Linked DNA regions of Homo sapiens. The protein of the gene in region 4 interacts with the protein of the main gene of each other region in a pairwise test. Each region holds a gene or a part of one and is shown on either strand. Other genes may lie near its edges.

Region 1 (4,509 bases), on a different chromosome or scaffold from region 4:
CCACCCAAACAAGATTTTTTAAAAAGACTGTCCCTGTACACCTTGTTCCTCGGGGTGGTTAAGGCACAACCTCTTTCTATATGAGCTCAGTCACCAGGGATGCTTAGAATTCCTCTATTCCTGGCCGTACCAGATGACAGAAGGAAGCGATTGGCCCTGGAATGACTGGGCTCCAGGTCCCCACCTCCCTCATACAGCCTTGGTCTGGGAAGCCCAGGCTTGATGCGTATGCAGAAGGAAGGCAGCATACATTCTAGACAGAACGATCTAGTAACTATGGGGCTGTCATTTGGGGAGGTGGATCAATGTCCTTATAAAAAATGCTACAGACTATTCTCTGGGGCCCACAGGACGGGACCATAGACTTAATAAACAAAATGGGGACGGTGTACAGAGATCCACAAGTAGAAATTTTCTCAAGGTGCTTTTTTTTTTTTTTTTTTTTTTGAGACGGAGTCTTGCTCTTTCACCCAGGCTGGAGTGCAGTGGCGCGATCTCGGCTCACTGCAAGCTCCACCTCCTGGGTTCACGCCATTCTCCTGCCTCAGCCTCCCAAGTAGCTGGGACTACAGGCGCCTGCCACCACGCCCGGCTAATTTTTTTGTATTTTTAGTAGAGACGGGGTTTCACGGTGTTAGCCAGGATGGTCTTGATCTCCTGACCTCATGATCTGCCTGCCTTGGCCTCCCAAAGTGCTGGGATTACAGGCATGAGCCACTGCGCCTGGCCCCCAAGGTGCTTTATTTAGCTTGTTTTTGAAACCAGCTGTGTAACATGAGGGTGTGGCACTAGGACTGAGGGAAGAAACAGCCCAAATCTATAAGATATGGGTCAAGTGACCTTGTTTTATAAAGTCCGGAAGACTCACAGTGGGTTAGATGCTACAGGCACAAGTAACAGATACCCATTCAGACTGGCCTAAACAATAAGGAAATCCATTAAGAAATGGCTCAAGACCAGGTGTGGTAGCGCACACCTATCGTCCCAGCTACTCGGGAGGTTGAGTTGGGAGGATCACTTTGAGTTTGAGGCTGCAGTGAGCCATGATTGCACCACTGCACCCCAGCCTTGGCAATAGAGCAAGACCTTGTCAAAAAAAGAAAAGAAATGGGGCCAGGCGCAGTGGCTCACGCCTGTAATCCCAGCACTTTGAGAGGCCGAGGCAGGCGGATCACCTGAGATTGGGAGTTCAAGACCAGCCTGACCAACATGGAGAAACCCCGTCTCTACTAAAAATACAAAAAAAATTAGCCGGGTATGGTGGCGCATGCCTGTAATCTCAGCTACTTGGGAGGCTGAGGCAGGAGAATCGCTTGACCCCAGGAGGTGGAGGTTGTGATGAGCCAAGATTGCACCATTGCACTCCAGCCTGGGCAACAAGAGCGAAACTCGGTCTCAAAAAAAAAAAAAAAAAGAAGAGAAAAGAAATGGTTCAAAGTCTAGGCCCTCTTCAGAGCTGGCTGATTCAGCTTGCCAACAGTGACATCAGGGTGAGGCTTCCTCTGTCCACAGCATTAGCTGCGAATATCCTCATGGTCACAAGATGGCTGCCAGTGGCCGTCAGGGTGTGTGCTTCCTTGTTCACATCCAGTGGAAGAGTGACAGCCTGCTCCCCTTAGCTCTCTGACACCAATGAGAAGGTGCTAAGAACTTACTAGCAGGCCTTTCCTCATGACCCATTCAACAGGATTGGGTCACGTGCCTATTCCTGAACCACTAATTGGGAAGGGATGGGATTACTCTTAGACCAGTGGTTCTCAACTGAGCATGAGTTTGTCTTCCAGGTGACAGTTGGCCATGTTTGGAGACATTTATGGTTGTCACAACTGGGGTGATGCTACTGGCATCTCATGGGTAGAGGCCAGGGATGCTGTCAAACATCCTACAATGCACAGGACAGCCTCACAACAAAGAATTATGGCCCTAAGTGCCAAGGTTGAGAAAGTCTGCCTTAGACCTGTCAGGGCTGCCCCCAGCCTGGGGTCTGTTTCCCCCAAAACACGCACATCTCAGCGGACAGGGCCAGAATGCACTTTGGGGGCCAGCCACAGCCCCTGCCAGCCTCCCAGTTCCCCCAGATCCTACCCTGGGCTTCCCCTGTAAGAGCTTTATAATGAGATTTCAATTTTATAAAATTATAAGGGGCCTCTTAGGAGTTTTTGCCTGACATATCTTTATGAACCTACCCTGAGTGTTTGTCCCTGGAGAGCCAGGCCCAAGGATACCAATGGCTAGAACCAACAGAAAAGCACAGCTGCCGGCAGGAGGCCTCACCCTCCCGCAGTGTGAGGCAGAGCAGCACAGTGGCTCAGAACAACAGCATGTGCTGGGTGACCTTTGGCAAGTTGATTCACCTCTCTAAACCTCAGCCTTCTGAGCTGCTAAATGGGGCTGTTGTGATTGCTGGATGAGGCGAGGCCTGCGAAGTGGCTGGCATGCAGCAGGTGCTAATGAGTGCTGCAAAGGTGATGTCACGCAGGCAGCTTCCCGTGGCCAGAGAAACATTGCAGAGAAGGGATAAGTAGGGCTTAGTGACTTTGACGGGTCAATGGAAGAATGACCCAAAGAAGGCTTCAAGGCCAGGCCTGCAGTTCTCCACCACAAAGGCCCTCACTGATAGCACCCACTCCCCCACACTCAGCTTTGGGGCCTAGGTCTGGTCACCCAGCTAGAAGCCACAGGACCCTGAGGCGTCCGAGGGTGGGAAGGCTGAGAGGCAGCTGAGACTCCTGGAGGCCGTGACTGGGAAGCCCTCTCTTTAGAAAGGCCATCAGCTTCCTGCGTGGGGGTGACTGGCTCCTCCCGAGAGATGGCAGCCAGGTCTGACTGTGCCCCTCTCTTACAGACCCCATGATGGAGCTGACAGGCACTGACCCTTCAGAGCTCGACGGCCAGCAGGAGATGGAGGACTTCGAGGAGAACGCCTACAGCTATGCGAGCGTGGACAGCAGCGCCGAGGCCAGTGTCCTCACTGAACAGGCCATGAAAGAGATGGCCTACTACAATGTGCTATAGCGCAAGCTGGGCCACCCCTAACGGGGGCCGGGGGCGAGGGCATGGGGGTGAGACCCATGGGCTGCAGGCTGCACCTCCTGCAGCCGAGAAACAAGCTACTGCCCCACTGTTCTGAGCCCTCCCTCCCCGAGTCATTTGCACCACTAGGGACCTTTAGACCAAATGGAGACTGTACTACTGGCCCCGGCTGTGAGCCAGCACAGGCCCAGGCATCCCAGCAAGGGAAGGAGAACACGCGAGGCCCAGATCTGGGTCTCCCTGGCCTGCTTCCGTGGGGAGTGGGAGAAGTGGGGCCACTGGGGACAGGTCACAAGGGCACCGGCCCTCGGGGTCTCTCCAGGCCCAGCAGAGCTCTTCAGGGGTCCTGACACTGGAAGAAGAGACCACTTGAGCCATGTCTTTTTCACGGCCAACTCCTGCCTCTAAGGATGTCTGAGCTCCCCTCTGGCCAGTACTGCCCACCTCTACCTTGTCCAGGCCCCCTTCCCCGCCCTGTCGACGGACCGCCAGGCAGGGCACTCTGCCTTCTACCTCCCGGGGTCTCCCATGCGCTCCTCAAGCCAGGTGTGCACGTGGCCCTGGCCCTGGCCTGCAGGACAGCTGGGGGGCACCCAGCCCCCAGAAGACCCCTGTCCTACATCCCTTTCTGGAAGTGAGTGTCCCTACAGTGGATTGCAACACATGTCGTCCACTTCGACCCTAGCTGGAGTGCCTCACCAGGGGGCCCCACTAGGAACAAAGCCAGGACAGGCCCCGCGTCAGGCACACACTAACAAAACCAGAAGCATGGGGCAGGGCAGGGCGGAGTGAGGGCATCACAGGGGACCAAGAAGGGCTGTCCTTGGGGGAGGCCCAGGACCACCTGTCGGGGAGGGGGACCGCAGTCATTTCTCATTCCTCAGTGTCCACCTTGCGACGGGGATAGCCACGAGTCAGCAGCTTCCCGGAAAGAGCAACGTATTTTAAAAAGGAAAGTAAAGCCCACAGAGGGAAATCAAGGGTTTTTTTGAGCAAAGGGGGTCTTCTGAAGGTAACTTATTATTTTTTTCTTTCCAACTGTGTGTCACCTATGACCTTTTCTGATGGAGATGCATTTTCTTTTTCCAAGCGTAAGCTTCCTAATGTGCTGTGCGTGCTTCCTACCCACCCACCCCGAGCAGCCTGGCCGGGCAGGACTGGGGCTCCATGGGGACTGTCACCCTGGCCCTGGAGGTGCAGCCGCTGGCAGCAGCCTCAGCAGGCTGGGGTGGGAGGCAGGAGAAGGCAGAGCTGGGAAGCCCTCCACCCCTGCCTGGCTCCTGCAGTCGCTGACTTGCTCTGTCCCATGTCCCATCCTCGGCTGTCAGGGCTGCTGACTCTGCTCAGCCAACAGCTAGCTCCCTCGCTCGCCTGCTCTCTTCCCCTCTGTTCCCACGCCAGCTCCTGCCCCTGGAACCAGAGATGACAGGCCCAGGGCAGTGAAATAGCACATTCAGGAACTCTAGGGCACCCGGA
Region 2 (4,584 bases), on a different chromosome or scaffold from region 4:
TGTCTGCATCTTGTGTTTAAATGTACCCATTTTACCCCAAAGCAGGCTGGGGCATGGGACTGGTGGCTAATTAGCTGTGGAAGAATCTAGAACCGGAGGAGTTGGGCAGAGGGAAACTGGGTAGACAGCTGTGGAGCTTGGCTGGCCCAGGGCCCCTGGGCAGAGGCTGGCTTGATGCTGGGTGGTGCCTGGGGTGTCCTGGGGATGGGTCCAGCCCTCTGCTCTTGGGGTGGGTGGGGGCAGCCTTCCAGGGGGCTGGGGAATAGACCCAGGATCCTTGTCATGTTGCTCCTTCTAGAACCCCAGATGTGAAGGCGTTTCTGGAAAGTCCTTGGTCCCTGGATCCAGCGTCGGCCAGCCCAGAGCCCGTGCCGCACATCCTTGCGTCCTCCAGGCAGTGGGACCCCGCGAGCTGCACGTCCCTGGGCACGGACAAGTGTGAGGCACTGTTGGGGCTGTGCCAGGTGCGGGGTGGGCTGCCCCCTTTCTCAGGTGAGTCCTGGGTGTGCATGTGGGGTGCCTTTGGCCTGGGGAGCGGCGCCAGGCTGTGCTTTAGCCCTAAGAACAATGGGGGCTGTTTGCAAACGGGGTTCGAAGTTTTCCCAGGCCCTTGTGTTGGTGAGAAACCCACGTGTTGAGGGATGAGCTTGATTCAAGGCCCCCGGGCTGTGCCTGCTTTTGTGAAAAGGAGGACGTGTGCTCTCGGGAGGGAGGAAGTGTGGCTCGAGGAAGGGAGAGTCCTGGGCAAAGGCCACCATGGGAGCTGTTCCTTCTATCCTGTCTCCTCCTGGGACTTCCATGTGCTCCAGGGAAGGGAGGGCCTGATCTTCTCCTCCCTGGGTCCCTGGGTCTGCTGGGAAGCATGGGGACGTAGAGGGACTTGGCCCCATCCTGGTCACTCCCTGGGTCTGCAGGAAGTATGGGGACGTAGAGGGACTTGCCCCATCCTGGTCACTCCCTGGGTCTGCTGGGAAGCATGGGGACGTAGAGGGACTTGGTTCTGTCCTGGGTCTGTGGGAAGTGGGGAGGTAGAGGGACTCGGCCCCATCCTGGTTGCTCCGTCCAGCTTTGTGGCCCTGCTTCTCTCACCCGCCTGTGGCTGGTGTGTTTTGGATGTGGCCGGAGATCTGTTTTCCCCGGGGCGCCCCATCTGCCCTTCCGCCTATGCTGCCTGGCCATGGCAGGAACTGTAATTGGGGTGAGCCAGGGGCCCGAGGCCTCCCAGCTGTTCCCTCTGCCACCCGGGGCCTTTGTCCCTAATGCCACCCACAGCTGAGCTCTGGTCCCTCTGTGGGTGGCCCTGCAGGGCGCCTCTGATGACCGAACTCCCCTCGGCCCCTGCTGTGGTAGCGTCTGGAAGTCGCCAGGTGCCATGAGAGGCAGGGCTGTGCCTTTTGGCTCCCAGCTGTGGCTGGGAGCAGTCATGCAGTTGGCAGGGCTGGTGTCAGAGCTGGGGTCATCAGGGCACTCCGGAAACCCAGGAGTCAGCCAGGCACGTGGGGAGCGAGCAGGTCTGAGGGCAGAGCTCGAGGTCCGGGAGGCGGTGCTGAGAGGGTCCCCAGATCCAAGCCCCTTGCGGCTGGCCAAGCCAGCACCCCCTCTAGGAAGCCCTTGGCCCCCAGGTGTTGGGCACCCCACCTCTGGGTGTTCATCTTTTCCTTGTTTACCTGTGTGCCACCCGCTTCTGAGCTTCCTCCCACGTGTCCCTGCTGCAGGGTGCAGGCAGCAGAGCAGGTGCTCGGTCAGTGTGAGTGGACCGAGCCCGTGAGTCACGAGGTCCTCGGGGGCAGCCTGTGGGGCTGGGCAGGGAAGGCTGACCCGCATCTGACTTCTCTCCCAGAACCTTCCAGCCTGGTGCCGTGGCCCCCAGGCCGGAGTCTTCCTAAGGCTGTGAGGCCACCCCTGTCCTGGCCTCCGTTCTCGCAGCAGCAGACCTTGCCCGTGATGAGCGGGGAGGCCCTTGGCTGGCTGGGCCAGGCTGGGCCCCTGGCCATGGGGGCTGCACCTCTGGGGGAGCCAGCCAAGGAGGACCCCATGCTGGCGCAGGAGGCCGGGTGAGTGCCCAGGTGGTGTGCACGCCTGTGTGTGCGTGAGCGAGCATGTGTGTGTGAGCCTGTCCCACCTCCTCCCAGTCCTGCTTGGGCCCACTTTCTCGGCATCTGGAAGCTTCCGTCTCTGCTTCTGTGCCCGTGGGAGGGAGGCCAAGGCCACAGCCCAGGACAGGACCAGCCAGCCTTGCCGTGTGGCTTTCTAATGTGTGTTTCTGGAAACACTTTTGTCTTCCTAATTGTCATTTGTTTTGGCTGATAGTAAAATGAGTTTGTGTTTCGTGAGCACATACCAGCTGGGGTGTGGGAGGGGGAGGGGAGGGGGAGGGAGGGGACGAGAAGAGCGAGACTGTGGCTGGAGAGAAACCGGCAGAGATGCTCTGCAGGACGGATCGGGACCCGCGAGAGCCGCTGGCCCGTGTCCTCAGCGGCTGTGGCCTCTGCATTTCTCCCCGCTGGGCAGGGTGGAGCCTGTCAGGAGTGGTGCCTAGATCTTTGCATTCGAAGCTGCCTTTGCAGGACTTGGGCCCAAATGTTTCCTTGAGCTCCAAGGTCTGGGTCCGCTTGTGGCCACTGAGGAAGAGCTTGTCGCTTCCAGGTCTGCGTTGGGGTCTGATGTGGACGATGGGACGTCCTTCCTGCTGACTGCTGGTCCCAGCTCGTGGCCGGGTGAGTGGGGCCCTGGGTTCAGGGCTGGTCCCCCCGCGTAAGCACCTGATATGAGCTGGGGAATTGGGACTCAGGCCTAGCGTGTGTCAGGGGGCCCCAGGGTCTGTGTCTGAGCCCCCGTTTTCTCCACCGTTGGTGCTTAGCTGTTGGGCCGTGTCTGGTATTGAGCGTTATAGGTGATATGTGAGTGTGTGAGTGAACGTGATGTGGACGAGCCTGCATGAGAGCTGGCGGTGCTTGGAGCCCTGTATTCTTCCCCTTGACCCTGTGTCAGCGAGGCCCCTGGTCCAGCCCGTGCTGGCCGGCAAAGGTGTATGGCCCTGTGACATGGCGTGTGTCCATTCCATTTAGGATTTAGTGTTTGGGAGCCCGTTCCTGGTTCTGGTCCAACAGGTGTCCTGGGTCTGGGGCCACCAGGTATGAGCTCACCCACCTCATCACAGCCTCTGTGCAGCGGGGACAGGGCAGGGCAGACGGACTGAGGTGGGAGCTCTGTTCCTCCGACCCCACCTGTCTGCCTCAAGCTCCCAGAGCACCTGCCTGCCCTGCCGATGTGTCCTGTTTGCTTCCAGGGTCTCTGGAGGGTCGAGGAGGCAGTGGCCCTGCATGGGCCCCAGCTGAGAGCAGTCCACTGGATGTTGGAGAGCCAGGCTTCCTAGGGGACCCTGAGCTTGGCTCCCAGGAGCTCCAGGACAGCCCTCTGGAGCCGTGGGGCCTGGATGTGGACTGTGCAGGCCTGGCCCTGAAGGACGAGGTGGAGAGCATCTTCCCTGACTTCTTTGCCTGCTAGCAGCCAGGCTGTGGAGAGGAGGCGGGCGGGGCCGGTGGATCTGGAGCCGTGTGTGTCCCTGTCGCGTGCTTGGGCATTTTATTTTGGGTTTGGGTTGCAGCTGCACCCTAATTTGAGCGAGGCTTACAGGCTGTGAGAAGAGGATAGTGAATATTAAAGAGGGAAAGCAGTTTTCCTGGAGGAAGCAAAACCTGTGTGGCTTCTGTGTAATTAGCCTGATTCATCAGGCGGATCGCGCCACCTCCGTTCAGCGTTCAGGCAGCTGCCGGGGATTTTGTTCTCCAAAGTTCTCAGCACTGCGAAATCCCGGAATAACCCAGTCCTGGTGCCCTGGGGTAGGGGTGCTGTGGGACCTGCTCCCTGGAGGCGATGTGGCCTCACGGTCTTGGTGCCTGGAGGCTGCTCTGTGAGCTGCTTTTCCTGCTCGTTGCCACTCAGAGCTGCAGGGAGGAGAGTCCTTTAGGAAAAGCCTGCTGTCCTCTCCCAGCCCAGGGGGCTCCAAGGGAAGGGCTGGCTTCCACCTCCACTGCTGGTCATCTCTGCACTCACTGTGCATGGGGAATAGGGGACCCTGGGCAGAGGTCACCTGGCCTCAGTGTCTGGTCCTATTCCCAGCCCTACACCCTGAGATCTGGAGGGGAGCTGGGTTACTTCGGGGTCGGGGTGGGCAGGTTACTTAGAGGAAGGGCCGAGCTCTTTGGATGGTGCTTAGGTGCCCGCCTGTTCTTCAGCCACAGCACAGGTGGTGCTGGTCTCCGACCCCGGATGCTCAGGGTCTCACCCTGCTATCCCCATCTGGATAGCACGCCCACCAGGGCAGTGTTCCAGGGGCCAGCGCAGTCTCTGTCGCCCAGGTAGAGGAAACAGGTCTGAGCGTGGGCTCAGAGCCCCACCAGGCTGCAGCCCTGTGCCTGCATGCAGCCGCCCCCGCAGCCAGCCAGAATGTTCCATTCATTCCTCTGAGTCATTCAGGCAAAGGCTTAGGAGGGCCTGCCGTGGGCAGGAGGTTAGGAGGCTCCAGGGAGCAAGCGCCGTGCAGACACCAGGCTGTGGGTGGCGGGCAGACCCCAGGGGGCT
Region 3 (4,509 bases), on a different chromosome or scaffold from region 4:
CTCTCTCTGTCTTTCTGCTTCTTTGCTCCCTGGGTCTGCTTCTGTCTCTCTCTGTGTACGAGTCTCTGTCTCCTTCCCTCTCTGGGTCTCTTGTCCCCTCCCCAGCTGTTCTGCATCTTGGCAGCCCCTCCATCCACCTCCCAGCCTCTCCCTCAACCTCTCTCCTTTCCTGCCTCCCCAGACACCCGCTCTTCCCCCTCTTGGCCCTGGTCTTTGAGAAATGTGAACTGGCTACATGCTCTCCCCGTGACGGGGCCGGAGCTGGGCTGGGGACACCCCCTGGAGGTGACGTCTGCTCCTCTGATTCCTTCAACGAGGACATCGCTGCCTTTGCCAAGCAGGTGGGCACCTCCCACCCACCACACACCGAGTCAGAGAGCCAGCGAGGAGGGGTGGGTGGAAGGCGGGACATCCCCCTGCCGGCCTCTCTCTTCCCTCCCAGGTTCGCTCTGAGAGGCCCCTCTTCTCCTCCAACCCAGAACTGGACAATCTGGTGAGACCCGAGCCCTCCCCCACACCCCCTCCTCCAATGGGTCTCCTTCCCTGACGCCCCATCCCTGGGGTTGGTGGGGGGGGTGCAGAGAGAAGGCCACCTGGTCCATGTCCCCAAACCGTCATGATTGTTGCCCACGTGCCGTGTGGTACAGCCTAGAGTCTGAGAACGGGACCCATGGCCCGAGTTCAAATCCCAGCTCTGCCACTCACCAGCTCTGTGACCCAGGGCAAGTCACTCTGCATCTCCGTGCCTTGGTGTCCCGTCTGTGAAGTGTGGCTGGTAGTAATGTCTGTCTTGGAGGGCTGCTGTGGGGGTTTAATGAGTGAATGCGATTCAAGTGCGTGGAACAGCACCTGGCACAGAATAGGGCTCAAAAAGTGTCTGATGTTCCATCCGTCAGAAGATCAGCACCTATGCCAAAGTGAGCGCAGGGACTGCTGCCCAAGGAGAGGAGGCTGGGTGCGGCAGCTCACGCCTGTAATGCCAGCACTTTGGGAGGCCAAGGCCAGGAGATAGCTTGAGGCCAGGGATCGAGACCAGCCTGGGCAACGTAGCGAGACCCCACCTCTACAAAAACATTTAATTAGCGGGGTGTGGTGGCATGCACCTGTGGTCTCAGCTACTTTGGAGGCTGAGGCGGGAGGATCGCTTGAGCCCCAAGAGGTCGAGGCTGTAGTGACCCTTGATCAGCTCCACTGCATACCAGCCCAGGCAACAGGGCAAGACCCTGTCTCTCATAGAGAGCTAGAGAAAGAGAAAGAAAGAAAGAAAAAGAGGGCCGGGTGCGGTGGCTCATGCTTGTAATCCCAGCACTTTGGGAGGCTGAGGCAAGCAGATCACCTGAGGTCAGGAGTTCGAGACCAGCCTGACCAAATGATGAAACCCTGTCTCTACTAAAAATACAAAAATTAGCTGGGCACAGTGGTGCACGCCTGTAGTCCCAGCTACTCAGGAGGCTGAGGCAGGAGAATCGCTTGAACCTGGGAGGCAGAGGTTGCAGTGAGCCAAGATCACACCACTGCATTCCAGCCTGGGCAACAGAGCAAGACTCCATATCAAAAAAAAAAAAAAAAAAGAGAGAGAGAGAGAAGAAAGGAGGGAGGAATACCCAGCTTCTCCCATCCTTTGCTCCCCAAGCTCTTGCCAGGGCTTCCTATTGGCCAAACCCTTTGGCAAGTGTTCTGGGAAATGTAGCTTGCAGGTGGGTGGGGCCTGGAGCTGGGGGCCAACAGGCAGAGGATGGGAATGCCAGTCAGCATGGCTCACCTTAGCTCTCCCCGCTTGTGATGGGTCCTTTTTCGTCTCTTGCTTCTCTCAATCTAACATCTGCTCTTTCCTTAATTCTGGGCTGCATCTCTGTTCTCTCTTTCCCCCTTGCACCTGGTGTCTTTGTCTCTCTTTGCTGCATCTCCCTGTCCCTGTCATTTTGTCTCACTCTTTCTGTTTCTCTGTGTCTCCTCTTCCTCCTTCTCTTCCTCTTCCTTCTTCCTCCCTGCTCCCTCCCCCAATTCCCTCTGTCTCCCCCCACCTCCCGCCCACGTTTTCAGATGATCCAGGCCATCCAGGTGCTGCGGTTCCACCTGCTGGAGCTGGAGAAGGTGAGCGCGTCTCACCTCCCCACACCCTCACTTGCCCCTGTCATCCCACCCCCTCTCGTCGCCTCTGCCCCCCACCTTCCAGCTCTCTCCCCACCGGAGTTGAAGCAGAATGCCGCCCCCGTCCCTGAGCACCCCCGCCCTGCCCCCGTGGGTGGCCCCCCCCAGTACCCCGGTGCCCCCCCAGGTCCACGACCTGTGCGACAACTTCTGTCACCGCTACATCACCTGCCTCAAGGGAAAGATGCCCATCGACCTGGTCATCGAGGATCGGGACGGCGGCTGCAGGGAGGACTTCGAGGACTACCCAGCCTCCTGCCCCAGCCTCCCAGACCAGGTGGGCCCGGGACGGGCACCAGGCATCGTCCTGCAGCCACAGCTGTGCCTGGACACCGCATGAGGGCGCATGTGCACTACACAGCCTCAGACGAAGCCACAGTCAGCCTGATCACAGGGCACGCATATGCACACAGCCACACACCCACTACACAACAGCTACGCAGACTCGGATGCGGCTGGGCAACAGTGCACAGACACACGCACACCAGCGGCTGCAGATGCCACCCACAGATTCAGCTACACCCACACAGGTCCACATACAGCCACACCAACTCAGCAACAGCCATTTCTGCTCACAGCCAGACAGTAGCGTCCACCGGGTACTCACACACGCCCCCCAGCCCAGCCATACGACAGCAGCATAGAACACACAGCCGGGTTCCGCACGCCGTTCTCAATTGAGTATGTGTCCACTGCATACACACACCCGCTCCAGCCACACAGATGGACATAGAGCCAAACAGCCCCAGGTACTGCCCGGCAAACTCAGATATAACCACACTTGGGCCCGGACTGACCACGGTGCCCTCTTGCACACACGTGACCCTGGCCACATCACAGTCGGGCTGCAGCCGAGATCACACGCACACACCACTCACAGCCACATGGCCCCAGACTCATCTACGCAGACTTGGAAATAGACTCACAGGCTCAGATGCGGCCACAAAGAATCAAACCCAGGCCGGGTGCGGTGGCTCTCACCTGTAATCCCAGCACTTTGGGAGGCTGAGGTGGGTGGATCATGAGGTCAGGAGATCAAGACCATTCTGGCTAACACGGTGAAACCCCGTCTCTACTAAAAATACAAAAAAAAAAAAAATTAGCTGGGTGTGGTGGCGGGTGCCTGTAGTCCCAGCTACTCAGGAGGCTGAGGCAGGAGAATGGCATGAACCCGGGAGGTGGAGCTTGCAGTCAGCCAGGATCGCACCACTGCACTCCAGCCTGGGCGACAGAGCAAGACTCCATCTCAAAAAAAAAAAAAAAGAATCAAACCCAGCAAAGCAACTCAGTAAGGTGGCACCATCTCAGACGCAGCCTCACTACAGTTTTATCCACTTAGGACACCAGACGGAAAACACACACAGCACAGCCGTGTGGATCCCGACTTGCCACAGCTCCATACAGAGTACAGGGGCAAAGCCTTGAGAAGTCGCATGAGAGCCACACTCAGGCAATCCTACTGTGAACACACCTGGCAATGACATCTTCACAGCACACGCACACCCACTCCACACCACCTCAGATACACTCCTATGACGACCACGCCACAGCCAGACCCACCCAGACACAGTCCCGGAGACATTTTTTTTTTTTTTTGAGATGGAGTCTTGTTTTGTCACCCAGACCGGAATGGAGTGCAGTGGCACGATCTCGGCTCACTGCAAGCTCTGCCTCCTGGGTTCAAGCTATTCCCCTGCCTCAGCCTCCCGGGTAGCTGGGACTACAGGTGCCCACGACCACACCGGGCTAATTTTTGTTCAGTAGAGACGGGGTTTCACCATGTTGGCCAGGCTGGCCTCGAACTCCTGACTTCAAGTGATCCTCCCGCCTCGGCCTCCCAAAGTGCTGGGATTACAGGCATGAGCCACTGCAGCCGGCCAAGTCCTGGAGCCTTATACCCACTCGCACAGGAATCGCAACAACAGTGTCACAAACAGGACAACCAAACCTTCAAACTGCAGTCACAGAAAGGAAAATGTAGACTGGTGATGGCTGGGCGCAGTGGCTCATGCCTGTAATCCCAGTACTTTGGGAGGCCGAGGTGAGCAGATCATCTGAGGTCAGGAGTTCAAGACCAGCCTGGCCAACATGGCAAAAACCCGGCTCTACTAAAAATACAAAACTTAGGCCAGGTGCAGTGGCTCACGACTGTAATCCCAGCACTTTGGGAGGCTGAGGTGGGCAGATCACGAGGTCAGGAGTTTGAGACCAGCCAGGCCAACATGGTGAAACCCCGTCTCTACTAAACATAAAAAAAACAAAAAATTAGACAGGCGTGGTGGCACGCACCTCTGATCCCAGCTACTCAGGAGGCTGAGGCAGGAGAATTGCTTGAACCCGGGAGGCGAAGGTTGCAGT
Region 4 (3,884 bases):
CCTATCAGGACCATCGGTGTAGGGTAAGTAGGGAAAGTGCTTCATTGTCAGAACAGACTGGGTGCAGTGGCTCACGCCTGTTATCCCAGCACTATAGGAGGCCAAGGTGGGTGGGTCACTTGAGGTTAGGAGTTTGAGACCAGCCTGGGCAACATGGCAAAACCCCATCTCTAGTAAAAATTAGCCAGGTGTGGTGGTACATACCTGTAATCTCAGCTACTTGAGAGGCTGAGACACAAGAATCACTTAAACCCAGGAGGCTAAGTCTGCAGTGAGCCAAGATCAAGATCAGGCCACTGCTCTCCAGCCTGGGTGACAGAGTGAGACTCCATCTCAAAAAAAAAAAAAAAATTGTCAGAATAAAGGAATCAGTCCTAGTAAACTCCACAGGCAACCCAGGCTGTGACCCATGTTCTTGTAGTTACCACAGAGTTCACAGTGACGCAGTCTTCATGCACAGTGGAGATGAAATCTGCTAATCTGCTACCTTCGCTTCCCAGTGGCCAACACCGTGGGTTGGGTCAGGGTGAGCTCAAGTGATTTCTTCTTATTCTTCTTCATTTTTTCTTTTTTTTTTTTTTGAGATGGAGTTTCACTCTTGTTGCCCAGGCTGGAGTGCAATGGCATGATCTCAGCTCACCACAACCTCCACCTCCCGGGTTCAAGTGATTCTCCTGCCTCAGCCTCCCAAGTAGCTGGGATTACAGGCATGCACCACCATGCCCAGCTAATTTTGTATTTTTAGTAGAGACAGGGCTTCTCCATGTTGGTCAAGCTGGTCTTGAACTCCCGACCTTATGTGATCCGCCCACCTCGGCCTCCCAAAGTGCTGGGATTACAGTTGTGAGTCACCACGCCCGACCAAGTGATTTCTTCTTAATAGTCTCTTCCCTTTTATCTTACTCCTTCCCTGCCAATAGGCTGCTCAGGAGTCAACACACATATACACTAAGGAGGAAGTGAGTTCCCACACCAGCCCTGAGACTGGGATCTGGGTGACTCTGGGCTCTGAGGTCTTTGATGTCACAGAATTTGTGGACCTACATCCAGGGGGGCCTTCAAAGCTGATGCTAGCAGCTGGGGGTCCCCTAGAGCCCTTCTGGGCCCTCTATGCTGTTCACAACCAGTCCCATGTGCGTGAGTTACTGGCTCAGTACAAGATTGGGGAGCTGAATCCTGAAGACAAGGTAGCCCCCACCGTGGAGACCTCTGACCCTTATGCTGATGATCCTGTACGTCACCCAGCCCTGAAGGTCAACAGCCAGCGGCCCTTTAATGCAGAGCCTCCCCCTGAGCTGCTGACAGAAAACTACATCACACCCAACCCTATCTTCTTCACCCGGAACCATCTGCCTGTACCTAACCTGGATCCAGACACCTATCGCTTACACGTAGTAGGAGCACCTGGGGGTCAGTCACTGTCTCTTTCCCTGGATGACTTGCACAACTTTCCCAGGTACGAGATCACAGTCACTCTGCAGTGTGCCGGCAACCGACGCTCTGAGATGACTCAGGTCAAAGAAGTAAAAGGTCTGGAGTGGAGAACAGGAGCCATCAGCACTGCACGCTGGGCTGGGGCACGGCTCTGTGATGTGTTAGCCCAGGCTGGCCACCAACTCTGTGAAACTGAGGCCCACGTCTGCTTTGAGGGACTGGACTCAGACCCTACTGGGACTGCCTATGGAGCATCCATCCCTCTGGCTCGGGCCATGGACCCTGAAGCTGAGGTCCTGCTGGCATATGAGATGAATGGGCAGCCTCTGCCACGTGACCACGGCTTCCCTGTGCGTGTGGTGGTTCCTGGAGTGGTGGGTGCCCGCCATGTCAAATGGCTGGGCAGAGTGAGTGTGCAGCCAGAGGAAAGTTACAGCCACTGGCAACGGCGGGATTACAAAGGCTTCTCTCCATCTGTGGACTGGGAGACTGTAGATTTTGACTCTGCTCCATCCATTCAGGAACTTCCTGTCCAGTCGGCCATCACAGAGCCCCGGGATGGAGAGACTGTAGAATCAGGGGAGGTGACCATCAAGGGCTATGCATGGAGTGGTGGTGGCAGGGCTGTGATCCGGGTGGATGTGTCTCTGGATGGGGGCCTAACCTGGCAGGTGGCTAAGCTGGATGGAGAGGAACAGCGCCCCAGGAAGGCCTGGGCATGGCGTCTGTGGCAGTTGAAAGCCCCTGTGCCAGCTGGACAAAAGGAACTGAACATTGTTTGTAAGGCTGTGGATGATGGTTACAATGTGCAGCCAGACACCGTGGCCCCAATCTGGAACCTGCGAGGTGTTCTCAGCAATGCCTGGCATCGTGTCCATGTCTATGTCTCCCCATGAGCATGGAAAGGAGCCACCTCCACCCCTTTCCCCACCCATTAGCCTCACTGCTTCAGAAAAATCTTTCCCACCTTTCAACTTCTTGGATCACAACTCTGGCCTTCCTAAGCCATACCCAAGTACACATATAGCACATTTCACCCAAGGACCTTCCCTCTTTGGACACTATGTTACATACCCCTCTTGGCCTTTGAACCTGTGCCAGGAAGTGTGAGCTGTTACAGCAAGGGGCTAGAAGTGAAAAAAGTAATTCTGGAGACAAGCACTATTTTCTCTTCCTACCCCACCTCCATTTCTAATGCCTACTGCCATCAAGGCCTTGTTTTGCTTTTCTTTTTGGATTGTTCAGAGAAATGTGTGTGGCATGTGTAAGAAAAGTGTATATACTATCTTATACTACCTCTCCAGGTTGCCAGAGAGTTGCGAGGAGAGCAAGGGGCACAACCGTCTCCCTTTATAGTTCTACTTTTCTAATAAATAGTCTGTTTAAGATCATAACTCTTGGGCCTGGGGAGTGAGCCTATTGCAGGAGGAAGGATGCATTTGTACTGGGATGTATAATGAGATTAGACCAAAACAAACAAAACTGGGGAGGAAGACAGAGAGGAAGTAGGCTTGTAGGTTAAGAAGTAGGGCTTCCGGCTGAGCACAGTGGCTCACGCCTGTAATCCCAGCACTTGGGAGGCCAAGGCAGGTGGATCACTTGAGGTCAGGAGTTCGAGACCAGCCTGGCCAACATGGCAAAACCCAGTCTCTACCAAAAATACAAAAATTAGCTGGGTGTGGTGGTGGGTGCCTGTAATCCCAGCTACTTGGGAGGCTGAGGCAGGAGAATCGCTTGAACCAAGGAGGCAGAGGTTGCAGTGAGCCGAGATCACACCCACTACACCCCAGCCTGTGCGACAAAGCGAGATTCTGTCTCAAAAAAAGGGGGGCTTCCTTCTCTGAGGTTTGGCAGTATCTGCAGGGACACCTAGGTGATTGACCTCAGGATACCATGAAGAGAGGAGAGGTGACAAAAACATGTACCCTCCAACTCCTTTCCCCAACAGTTCCAATGCACTTGGCAGGAAAGGCAAAGGGTGCTAGGAGTTTAAAATCAATATTGTCTTAGGAGGTCGTGAAAGCAAAATAAATCTTGAGGCCCCAGAATCACTAAGCTAAAGGGAAAAGTCAAGCTGGGAACTGATTAGGGTAAACCTGCCTCCCATTCAAAGTCATCCCTCTGCTCACTGAGATAAATGCATACCTGATTGCCTTCTTTGAGTGGAATACAACCATTTGCCTCTTTTTTTTTTTTTTTTTTTGTAGAGACAGAGTCTTGCTCTGTCACCCAGACTGGAGTGCAGGAGTGCGGTGGCACGATCTCCGCTCACTGCAACCTCCGTCTCCGGAGTTCAAGCAATTCTGTCTCAGCCTCCCAGGTAGCTGGGACGACAGGCGCACACCGCCACGCCCGGCTAATTTCTTTTGTATTTTAGTAGAGATGGGTTTCACCATGTTGCCCAGGCTGGTCTCGAACTCCTGAGCTCAGGCAGTACGTCTGCCTCGGCC
Region 5 (4,509 bases), on a different chromosome or scaffold from region 4:
CTCCTAATCTTTTCCTAAAGGAACAAAGTATGGAGAAGCTCAGGAGTGTGGAGAAAGTCAAAAAAACTGCGGAGGTTGTTGTGCAAAGCAATAGGGAAGAGACTGGTTAGATTCACTGGAGATGCAGGATAAACTAGTAGGCCAGCTAGTTTGCTGGAGAGAACCAGGAAAAGAAGAAGCTAGGAGGAGCCCTTTGGTATCAGAACAACTCTCAAACACTGACCTTGGGAACTAACTGTCCCTTTAGAGGGACCCAAATTTGATCTACTCAGTCTGTGGAGCAATTTATGCCTCAGGGTGTTATTAAAACCAGTAGAGCAATCAGCTGGAAATTAGTGAAGCTTTAACAACTAGATGTGGTCAAGGAAAGATACACTCAAAGAAAGTCTTACAAAAATCTTTGTCATCCAGGATGACTGTGGGCATACCCAAGGCTGTGCCTTCTAATGAGCAATATCACATACTTCATACTTGAAGTTTGAGGGCAAACAGACTTTGCAAAAATAATCCAGCTGGTTACTAAACAAATGAGCAAATGACAATAACAAGCCTAAGGTGGAAAAGGTGGGACCAGTAGTACTCAGAGTTGCTAAAATGTCTAGTTTCCAACAAAGAATTATGAGCTATGCAAAGACACAGGAAAGTATGACCCATACACTGGAAAAAAAGCAGGTAACAGAAACTGATTGTGAAAGTGACCAGATGTCACATTTAATAGACAAAGACTTCAAAGTAGCCATTATATATGTTCAAATAACTAAAAAACTATGATTAAAGAAGCAAAGAAAGGTGTGTGATAATGTCATGTCAAATAGGGAATATCAATAAAGAGATAGCAATTATATATTAAAAAAGAAACAAATAGAAATTCTGGAGTTGAAAAGTACAGTAACTAAAATGAAAAATTAACTAGAGGAGTTCAATAGGCTAGAACTGACAGAAGAAAGAATTCATGAATTTGAAGATAGATCAATACAGATTATGCAATATGAAGGAGAGAAAAAAGACTGATGTGTTGGAGAAGTGTCAGACACCATTGAACACACCAGCATATCAGAAATGATTAATAACAAGGTTAATATAACAAAAGATGCAAATATGCTCTTTTCTTCTCAGATTCTTTAAAAGACATTATATAAAGTAATAAGTATAACAATATAATGTTGAGTTTGTAACATTTGTAGACATAATGTGGATTACAATAAAATCACAAAAAAGGGGAAAAGGAACAGACTTATATAGGAATAGCATTCCTGTATCTCACTGGAATTAAGTTGGTATAAATCAGAAGCTGATTCTGATGAGAAGCATATTGTTAGCCCAGCTGGGTGCTGTGGCTCACGCCTGTAATCCCAGCAATTTGGGAGGCCAAGGTGGGCAGATCACAAGGTCAGGAGATCGAGACCATTCTGGCTAACATGGTGAAACCTTGTCTGTACTAAAAATACAAAAAAAAAAAAAAAAAAAAATTAGCCGGGCGTGGTGGCGGGCGCCTGTAGTCCCAGCTACTTGGGAGGCTGAGGCAGGAGAATGGCATGAACCCGGGAGGCGGAGCTTGCAGTGAGCCGAGATCGTGCCACTGCACTCCAGCCTGGGTGATAGAGTGAGACTCCGTCTCAAAAAAAAAAAAAAAAAAAAAAGGAAGAAGAAGAAGTGTATTGTTAGCCCAAGAGTAACTGCTAAAGAAAAAAAAAGTATAATCATTAAGTTATAATGCTACATTTGAAAATATTCACTTAATGCAAAAGAAAGCAGTAAAGGTGGAATAAAGGACAAAAACACATGAGACATATAAAAAACAAAAAGTAAAAATAAAACATGTAAATCCAGCTATATCAATAATATTAAATGTGCATGGATTAAGCAATCTAGTCAGAAGACAGACTGGATTAAAAAAAAAACAAGATCCAATTATATGGTGTCTAAAGGTGGCACACTTAAGGTTTAAAGATACAAATAGTTTGAAAGTAAATGGATGGAAAAAGAAATATAATGCAATAAAGAAAAGATAAATGTTTGAGGTGTCAGATATGCCAGTTACCCTGTTTTGATCATTACACTTTATATACATGTATCAAAATATCACATGTATCCCAAAAATATGTACTACTTTTATTAATTAAAAATTACATATATGCACATATAAATACATATATATACGTGTATACACATATATATATGCATGTATACATATATATACATGTACACATATATATACATATATACATGTATACATATATACATGTATACATATACATGTATACATATATACATGTATACATATATATGTATATATATATAAAAATATGCAAAAGGCAACTATGAGAAAGCTGGAGTGGCTACTTTAATATCAGCTTTTTATTTACTTTTTATTTATTTATTTGTTTATCTTTGAGATGGAGCCTTGCTCTGTCACCCAGGCTGGAGTGCAGTGGCACGATCTTGGCTCACTGCAACCTCCGCCTCCCAGGTTCAAGCAATTTTCCTGCCTCAACCTCCCAAGTAGCTAGGACTACGGGTGTGTGCCACCATGCCCGGCTAATTTTTTTTTTTTTTTTGAGATGGAGTCTCACCCTGTTGCCCAGGCTGGAGTGCAGTGGTGCAATCTCAGTTCACTACACCTCTGCTTCCTGGGTTCAAGCAATTCTCGTGCCTCAGCCTCCTGAGTAGCTGCCCGCCACCACACCCAGCTCATTTTTGTATTTTATTAGAGACGAGGTTTCACCATGTGGGCCCGGCCGGTCTTGAACTCCTGACCTCAAGTGACCCACCCACCTCGGCCTCCCAAAGTGTTGGGATTACAGACGTAAGCCACCATGCCAGGCCTGAATTATATACTTTAAATAGGTGAATTGGATGGTAGTGAGTAAAACTTGAAAATAAGAATACCAGTTTTATGAGTAACAACTAATGGATGCAGTTTCGGTTTCTTTGCAGTTCAGCTTGTCCTTAGAGAATAAATTCCACTGAGGACGTACAGTCAAAATAACGTGAGCTAAAAGTCATTTGAAGTAATTCTTTTTTCTCTGTGGTTATGTTACCAACTTGATTGTTAGTTATTGCATTAATTGACTTTTCCTATACTGAAACAACAATTCCAGAATTTTAGTAGCTTATAATGATAAACATTTATTTCTTGCTCAGGTTCTGTGAGTCCACTCTAGTGGTTCTTCTCTAGGCCCCAGGTTCAGTTCAGGTCTACCTGTGTGTCTTCTCATCCTGGGACTTCAGTTGAAAACACAGCTCCCATATAAGATAATGTAGGTCTTGTGGAGGGCATGGGAACACAAGAGGGTTGCTAGAATTTGCAGCGACTCCTAAATCCTTTGTGTGGACTGGCACACTGTCACTTTTATCCATATTTGTTTGTTTTGCATAAAAGGTTAAATTACGTTTTGTTGTTGTTGTTGTTGTTTTGAGACGGAGTCTCCCTCTGTTGCCCAGGCTGGAGTGCAGTGGCGTGATCTAGGCTTGCTGCAAGCTCCGCCTCCCAGGTAGCTGGGACTACAGGCGCCCGCCACCACACCTGGCTAATTTTTTGTATTTTTAGTAGAGATGGGGTTTCACCGTGTTAGCTAGGATGGTCTCTATCTCCTGACCTCGTGATCCACCTGCCTTGGCCTCCCAAAGTGCTGGGATTACAGGTGTGAGCCGCTGCACCCAGCCAAATTATGTTTTTTACTTATGTGAGTTTGTAATGACACCACCACATTCACTATCCCCCAGTTCTTCCTCATTTTGCCCCATTCCATATTTTATCTTTCCTTGTCCTCGTGACAATATCGGTTCCCAATAACACTACTGTATGTATTTATTCTATTCTACAATACACACAATATAGTTTAAAAATTAAGATAGTAATATCACTACTAATAACATTATATGAAGAGTTTAAGATATTTTTAAATTTCTTTTGCTTTTAGAAAGGTACCACTAAAGATGTCCATTCAGAAAACTGTTCAAGAATTATTTGAATTATATTCTGTGTGTGGTTATCAAGTCAGTAGGTTTTTTCTTTTTAAAGATGGGGTCTTACTCTGTTGCCCAGGCTGGAGTGCAGTAGCACAATCATAGATCATAGCTCACCATAACCTTGAATTTCTGGACTTTGCCTCTGCCTCTCACCTCTCAGCCTCCTGAGTAGCTGGGACTATAGGCACCCATCATCACGCCCACCTGACATTTTTTTTTTTTTTTTTGGGTAAAGACTGAGTCTCATTATTTTCCAGGCTGGTCTTGAACTCCTGGTCTCTGGCCCCAAGCAATCCTCTTGCCTCAGCTACCCAAAGTGCTGGGATTACAGATTGAGCCACTGCGCCCAGCCCAAGTTGGTGGGTTGTCTTTTTTTTTTTTTTTGAGACGGAGTCTCTGCTCTGTGGCCCAGGCTGGAGTGCAGTGGCATGATCTCTGCTCACTGCAACTTCTGTCTCCTGGGTTCAAGCTATTCTCGTGCCTCAGCTTCCTGAGTAGCTGAGATTACAGGCACCCACCACCACACCCAGCTAATTT
Region 6 (2,207 bases), about 66 Mb from region 4:
GTTCAAGCGATTATCCTGCCTCAGCCTCCCAAGTAGCTGGGATTACAGGCACCTGCCACCAAGGCTAATTTTTTGTATTTTTAGTAGAGACAGGGTTTCACCATGTTGGCCAGGACGGTCTCGATCTCCTGACCTCGTGATCTGCCCGCCTTGGACTCCCAAAGTGCTGGGATTACAGGTGTGAGCCACTGCTCCCAGCCAAGATCAGATGTTCTTGCATAATGGGCAGGTGAGCTCTGGAGTCACAGTGCCTGGGCGTGAATCTCGGAGCTGTGTGTTCTCAGGAATGTCACCCAAACTCTGTTCTGTTGGTCTCCTCACTTGCAATATGGGGCATTAACAGTACTTACCACCTGGGGTTACTGTGGTTAGTTACTGTGAGGATGAGATAAGGCGGTGGTTTTAAACTGTGGGTAGGATTTTGTCCTCCCTCAGCCCCACTCTTTCTTGGGGACATTTGGCAATGTATGACATTTTTGATGTCACAACAGGCAGGAAGAAGGCTACTGGCATTGAGTGAGTAGAGACCAGGGATGCGGTTAAGCATAGTGCAATATCACCATGCTACAAAAAAAAAAAAAAAAAAGAATTCAGCACCTGTAATCCCAACTACTTGGGAGGCTGAGGCAGGAGAATTGCTTGAACCTGGGTGGCAGAGGTTGCAGTGAGCCGAGATTGCGCCATTGCACTCCAGCCTGGGCGACAGAGCGAGACACCATCTCCAAAAAAAAAAAAAAAAAAAATGTTGAGAAACCCTGAAATACCACGATTCTAGCTAAGACCTCAGCAAGAGGCACATAGCACATAGTAAAGCCTCAATAAACACCACTGACCTTACTGAGGTTCTCTCTGCCCCCTAAGTCATAAGTAGGGTGGCCTCACCAAGGGTGTGGTTCTCAGTCTGTACCTCTGGCACTGGGAAGCCCCGCCTGGCCACCCTAGGATGCAGAATTAATCATAACTTCCAGATATGGAGCACTCACTCTATTCCAGGCCGTGTGCTGACAGCTTCGCAGCAAGCATTCTCTCCTGGCACTCCCCGACAACAGTGAGGTGTCTTGCTATTACTGCCATTTTAGAGGAGGAAACAGGTTCAGGGAGGATCACAAGTCATCAAGCTAGTACTGTGCTTAAACTTAGGTCTAGCTGTTCTTAATGTGCAGAAGAGTGTAAAGGGTTACCATTTTTAAAGAAAAAGTGGGGGCAGGGCATGGTGGCTCATGCCTGTAATCCTAGCACTTTGAGAGGCCGAGGCAGGCGGATCAAGAGGTCAGGAGTTCGAGACCAGCCTGACCAACATGGTGAAACCCTGTCTCTACTAAAAATACAAAAATTAGCTGGGTGTGGTGGAGTGCATCTATAATCCCAGCTACTCAGGAGGCTGAGGCAGGAGAATCACTTGAACCCAGGAGGCGGAGGTAGTGGTGAGCCAAGATCACGCCGAGCCGAGATCGTGCCGCTGCTCTCCAGCCTGGGCAACAGAGCGAGACTCCATCTCAAAAAAAAAAAAAATGTTGGAAGAGGGTGTGCTTGTTTATGTACAAAATGTCGCTAGATTTAAACACAATAAACTGGCAAAGATGGTTGTCTCTGGGGAGAATTGGGGACTTGGGAACAGGAGCTGAAGAACAACTTTTCAGTGTTGTGTTTGGAACCATGTGAATGTATTATGTATTCAAAATGTAAATAAAAATGAAGTTAAAGAGACTGTGCTCCTAACTAGGAGTGTTTGTCTAAGTTGCCTGGGTGTGAGAGCACCTGGGGTGCTTGTTAGAAATAGATTCCAAAGACACACCCAGACCTACTTAAATCAGAATCCTCCAAGGGCTTCGAAACCTGCATTTGACAAGCCTGGCTGATGAGTCGAGTCCCGGCCAGTTTAGGAACAAGAACCCAAGACAACAGGATCCTAGCCCAGAAATAATTCCAGCTGGATCTTGCATCCCTACAGAAGTAGGGAGGTGGCTGTCCTAGGGGAATACGTAAAAGATGTCCAGGACGGCCGGGTGCGGTAGCTCACGCCTGTAATCCCAGCACTTTGGGAGGCTGAGGCAGGTGGATCACCTGAGGTCAGGAGTTGGAAACCAGCCTGGCCAGTGTGGTGAAAGCCCATCTCTGCTAAAAATACAAAAATTAGCCGGGCGTGGTGGCTCATGCCTGTAGTCCCAGCTACTCGGGAGGCCGAGGCAGGAGAATCCCTTGAACCC
Region 7 (4,341 bases), on a different chromosome or scaffold from region 4:
CCTAATTTAAAAAAAAATTTTTTTTTTGACAGAGTCTTTTTCTGTCAACCTGGCTGGAGTGCAGTGGCATGATCTCGGCTCCCTGCACCCTCCACCTCCTGGGTTCAAGTGATTCTCCTACCTCAACCTCCCAAGTAGCTGGGATCACAGGCACACACCACCACACCCTGCTAATTTTTTCTTTTCTTTTCTTTCTTTTTTTTTTTTTTTTTTGAGACAGAGTCTTGTTCTGTTGCCCAGGCTGGGGTGCAGTGGCACCATCTCGGCTCACTGCAACCTCCACCTTCCAGGTTCACGTGATTCTCCTGCCTCAGCCTCCCAAGTAGCTGGGATCACAGGCACACACCACCACGCCTGGCTAATGTTTTTTTGTTGTTGTTTTTTTGTGTGTGTATTTTTAGTAGAGATGGAGTTTCACTATGTTGGCCAGGCTGGTCTCCAACTCCTGACCTCAGGTGATCCGCCCGCCTCGGCCTCCCAAAGTGCTGGGATTACAGGCATGAGCCACCGCACCCGGCCTTTTAATGATTTTTCTACAGACAGAATCTCGCTACATTGCCCAGGGTGGCCTCCAACTGCAGGTCTCAAGCCATCCTCCCGCTTCAAGCCTCCCACAGTGCTGGAAATACAGGTGTGGGCCACCATGCCCAACCCATATCACATGCTTAACAGTGATATGATAATGCTGGTTCTATGCATCTATTCAAGTACGTTTTCAAAGAATTTTTCCCAAGTAAAAAAGCTCATATGTTCAATGAAAACAATTTGGGAAAAAATTTAATGCTGACCTGGAAAAACATTATATATGCTACTGTCATATATTTAACATATAAATGCAAGTATATTGAGGAAAATATTCTAAAATGTCCACAGTAGTTAATGCTGAATGGCGGGACCCAGTGGCTTTTCATTTTCCCCCATTTCCCAAATTGCCTCCCGTTACCTTGTGCTACTTCAATCTGTGAATCCCAGAGCCTCCCCTGCAACCCGAGGACAAGGGCATGCAAGTCCGAAGGTGCCTTCGCTCGCCGAAAAGAGACTCAGACACGGAATCGTAGCTCAGTTTTATTTTCTACAGAAACAAACATGTAAGCCGTCCTCCTCCAGCGACAAACAATCAGGCCCCCACAATGAACTGGCCACTCGTGCTGGGACCATTCCCTAGGGGAGGAGGCATGACCTAGGAAGGGGCGCCAGGCTGGGCTTAGCGCCTCTGCCCTGAGGGAGGCTGAGCCAAAAACACGGGCAGAAAGCACTGCGTGATCCACATCAACAGGGAAAGCTGCTGGAGACAGGAGCTGATGGAGAGCTGCAGTTGGCGGTGGTCTGCAGCAGTCAGTCGGCTAAATGTGAGGGGCAGAGAACATCACGTTAAAGGCGACACCTCTGCACCCATCTCCCTGGGCTCCCTCGGGTGGCGGCGGGCCTGGTGTACCAGGTCTCTGTTCTGAGACCCTGTGCTGGGGTGTTCCCAGGTTTCTAGCAGCCTGACCGTGGGGTGTAGGCGGATCCCAGCCCCCACCCTGCCACGCTGTGACCGCCACCCACCCAGGCCCCATCCCTGTCCTGGTCCTGAACTGACATAGTCAGTATGTTGCCGGACACAGTGAACTCCTTCAGAAGCACCCCTGGCACGGGAAGCGGTGGGGCATCCTGGGCCAGGCTCCTGCGGGCCAGCTCTGCTTCCATGGGTGTCGCGAAAGGCATGGCGAGGTAGCTGGTGGGGGCCCAGTTAAGGCATCCTCTCCTAGGACTTGGCCTGTGGCTCCGGCCTGCTGCTTACCCCAGGCCAGCTTCCCCCTCCCCCACTCCCCCACCCCTCCCCCCTACCCCGGATTGCCCAGCCCATCCCCCCCAGGCTGTCTCCCCAGGCACTGGCCCAGTAGCACACCCCACCCAGCTGTCTTGGTTCCCCACTTTCCTTTGCTGCACCCCAAGCTGACTCCTCCATGCCCTTACAAGACCCCTCCCCACCCTGCCCCCTGTGGCATCACCCGGCCCCCTCCTCATCACTCGACCCTCCATCCCAACCACCTCCCGCCACCCGCTCCCATCTTGCCCCCTTCCCCCCACCTCCTGATCCCCTCCTACACCTGGGTCCCCCTATCTCCTGGCCCCTGCTCCCCTCCCCGCATGACCCGGTGCCCCTCACCCAATCACCCAGCCCCTCTCCCCCACCCCCACCCCCTCTACCTCCCAGCCCTTACCTCCTCCCCTCCTCGCAGCTGGCCTCTCATATCCCCACCTCCCAACCCCCACCCCCACCCCCACCCAACCACTTACTCGCATCTCCCCCGCCTCCTCCCCCACCTGGCCCTGCCCTCCCCATCTCCCGGCCCCCACCTCGCCACCAGAACTGTCAGAACAGAACAGAACAGAACAGAACAGAATACAACTCAAGCAGGCGGCTCTCCGGCCCCCTGGCCCCGCATCTGCAGCATCCATTCAGCCCTGAAGCCGCGCCGCCATGCGGACCCCGCGGGGCGCCTCCTCCCGGCCCCGAGGCCCTTGCTGCCCCTGCGCCCCGGGGACCTCTGCCGCCCGTGGCACCCGCCTCTCCTGGGCCGCCAGCATTGCCCCCTGGGCCATCAGGAATGCCAGGGCCTCCTGGGCCATCAGCATCGCCCGTCGAACCCCCTGTGCCCCGGCCTTCGGCCTGCATGGCTCCGGAGCCTCTGCCCGGCTCTCAGAGAGAAGGTCAGGGCCCACGAGGATGCGGAGGCAGAGAGGCTGCAGGAAGTTCCGCCCCCTGGCGTGAGATGGGCAGCCCGGGATCCTCAGGGCGCCTGCGCACAGGGGCCCTACTTCCGGCCCTGGGAGACCCCGAGTGAGCCCCGGAGCACGTGACCGGTTCTCACCAACCCCGCCCCTCCCCAAGAGAGCCCGGGCCGGAAGGTGGCCGCAATGCCAGCTTGGACCCCTCACCCCTGAGCAGCCGGCTGTCCGCCGGACCCCTGTCCCGGGAGCCCTGCAGGGAGTCAGGCACTGCGGGGCCCAGCCTGTCCCATCCCCCGGGTCTCCCTCACATCGAGGAGCAAGACGGGCCTGGGAACACGGGGCCGGGACTGTGCGGCCATCGTCCCGGACCCTGCCTGCCCTGTCCGTCCTTGGGGGAGCGCCCAGGACAGACCCCGGGGGGCAGGCCTCTAACTGGGCTCAGCAGCCTCCGTCCCTGTCCTGGTCGCCCAGCTGGTGGGGTAGCTGGAACTGCATGTCTGGTGGGCGTGGCCTCGCGCCAGCCAAGGTCTCCCAGGCGCCAGGTCCAGCCAAGGTGGACGGGAGGGCCCAGCGGGACCCGGGGCCGGATCTCACTCCTGGGTTCAACGGGTTCTGTCCCTGTCCTAGTCGCCCCGCCTGGTGGGGGAGCTGGAGCTGCGTGTGGGGTGGGTTGCGGGTGGCCTCCCACCAGCCAGGGGCTCCCGGGCTCTAGGCCTGGCCCAGGTGGACAGGCGGGACCTGCTGGACCTGAGGCTGGGTCGGGCCTGGCTCCTGGGTTCGGCAGTATCAGTCCCTGCCCTGGTCGCTCTTGCCTGGTAGGGAGCTGGGAGGTGACCCTGTGTCTGCTCAGTGGTGATCTATTTGTGTGTCTGGAAGGGGGTCAAATCCACGGGACAGGTACCTCTAGAGGCATGCAGGGGTGAGGGCGGCACGGCCCCGGGAGCTGAATGTCTGTGCCAGGCACACCTGTAGCAACAGGAGGTGACCAGACAGGGCCTAGCCCTGAGGAAGGGGGAGGTACTGAAATCCAAACCACTCTCCCCCACCTTCCAAATCCAGGAATCAGCAGCCTCTGCACCTGGGAAAAGCATATTGGCACTCATGTGGAAACTAAAAACGTTGATCTTTTGGAGGTAGAGCAGAATGATGGTTACCAGACGCTGGGAAAGGTGGGGAGGGTGGGGAGGTTAATGGGGACAAACATATAGTTGCATAGAAGGATTAAGTTCTAGTGTTTGATAGCACCGTAGAGGGACTATAGGTAATTATTTATTGTATATTTCAAAATAGCTAAAAGATAGGAAATGTTCCCCAAAAAAAGAAATGATAAATGCTTGAGGTGGTGGAGATCCTAAATACCCCGACTTGATCATTACATCGTGTGTGCGTGTGCATGTATCAGAATATCACATGTATCCCATAAATATGCAGAGTTATCATACATCAGTTAAAAATGTTTTTACTTACAGAAAAGAAAAATTCACCCAAGCTCTTGCGTGTACCTCCAGTTTATTATTTTCACTGCTGTATTTCATTACATATATTTCATTAAATGATGAATTTTAAAAACCAGAGAACACAACTTGTTAACACCTGGAATAGCTGAAAATCAGACATAACCCG

The links.
Region 1: the proteins of SUOX (region 4) and ZNF710 interact in binary tests that used the Homo sapiens proteins (3 or more experiments, as listed by UniProt).
Region 2: the proteins of SUOX (region 4) and SOHLH1 interact in binary tests that used the Homo sapiens proteins (3 or more experiments, as listed by UniProt).
Region 3: the proteins of SUOX (region 4) and MEIS3 interact in binary tests that used the Homo sapiens proteins (3 or more experiments, as listed by UniProt).
Region 5: the proteins of SUOX (region 4) and BAG4 interact in binary tests that used the Homo sapiens proteins (3 or more experiments, as listed by UniProt).
Region 6: the proteins of SUOX (region 4) and MORN3 interact in binary tests that used the Homo sapiens proteins (3 or more experiments, as listed by UniProt).
Region 7: the proteins of SUOX (region 4) and CTAG1A interact in binary tests that used the Homo sapiens proteins (3 or more experiments, as listed by UniProt).

What each region holds. Positions count from the first base shown.
Region 1 is NC_000015.10:90,076,815-90,081,323, forward strand, and holds part of ZNF710 (zinc finger protein 710), read left to right. Parts: exon of another isoform or gene 1-2,845; coding exon 2,846-3,015; 3' UTR 3,016-4,509. UniProt on the Homo sapiens protein: May be involved in transcriptional regulation.
Region 2 is NC_000009.12:135,692,520-135,697,103, reverse strand, and holds the end of SOHLH1 (spermatogenesis- and oogenesis-specific basic helix-loop-helix-containing protein 1), read left to right. Parts: intron 1-298; coding exon 299-492; intron 493-1,840; coding exon 1,841-2,054; intron 2,055-2,646; coding exon 2,647-2,717; coding exon of another isoform or gene 2,718-2,758; exon of another isoform or gene 2,759-3,068; coding exon of another isoform or gene 3,069-3,134; exon of another isoform or gene 3,135-3,289; coding exon 3,290-3,507; 3' UTR 3,508-3,697; downstream 3,698-4,584. UniProt on the Homo sapiens protein: Transcription regulator of both male and female germline differentiation. Suppresses genes involved in spermatogonial stem cells maintenance, and induces genes important for spermatogonial differentiation.
Region 3 is NC_000019.10:47,412,636-47,417,144, reverse strand, and holds part of MEIS3 (homeobox protein Meis3), read left to right. Parts: intron 1-181; coding exon 182-341; intron 342-442; coding exon 443-493; intron 494-2,043; coding exon 2,044-2,094; intron 2,095-2,278; coding exon 2,279-2,428; intron 2,429-4,509. UniProt on the Homo sapiens protein: Transcriptional regulator which directly modulates PDPK1 expression, thus promoting survival of pancreatic beta-cells. Also regulates expression of NDFIP1, BNIP3, and CCNG1.
Region 4 is NC_000012.12:56,002,698-56,006,581, forward strand, and holds the end of SUOX (sulfite oxidase, mitochondrial), read left to right. Parts: coding exon 1-23; intron 24-920; coding exon 921-2,330; 3' UTR 2,331-2,828; downstream 2,829-3,884. UniProt on the Homo sapiens protein: Catalyzes the oxidation of sulfite to sulfate, the terminal reaction in the oxidative degradation of sulfur-containing amino acids.
Region 5 is NC_000008.11:38,186,419-38,190,927, forward strand, and holds part of BAG4 (BAG family molecular chaperone regulator 4), read left to right. Parts: intron 1-4,509. UniProt on the Homo sapiens protein: Inhibits the chaperone activity of HSP70/HSC70 by promoting substrate release. Prevents constitutive TNFRSF1A signaling. Negative regulator of PRKN translocation to damaged mitochondria.
Region 6 is NC_000012.12:121,648,242-121,650,448, reverse strand, and holds the end of MORN3 (MORN repeat-containing protein 3), read left to right. Parts: 3' UTR 1-1,707; downstream 1,708-2,207. UniProt on the Homo sapiens protein: Assembles a suppression complex (suppresome) by tethering SIRT1 and MDM2 to regulate composite modifications of p53/TP53.
Region 7 is NC_000023.11:154,583,528-154,587,868, reverse strand, and holds CTAG1A (cancer/testis antigen 1), read right to left. Parts: upstream 2,737-4,341; 5' UTR 2,663-2,736; coding exon 2,394-2,662; intron 1,718-2,393; coding exon 1,583-1,717; intron 1,344-1,582; coding exon 1,205-1,343; 3' UTR 1,053-1,204; downstream 1-1,052.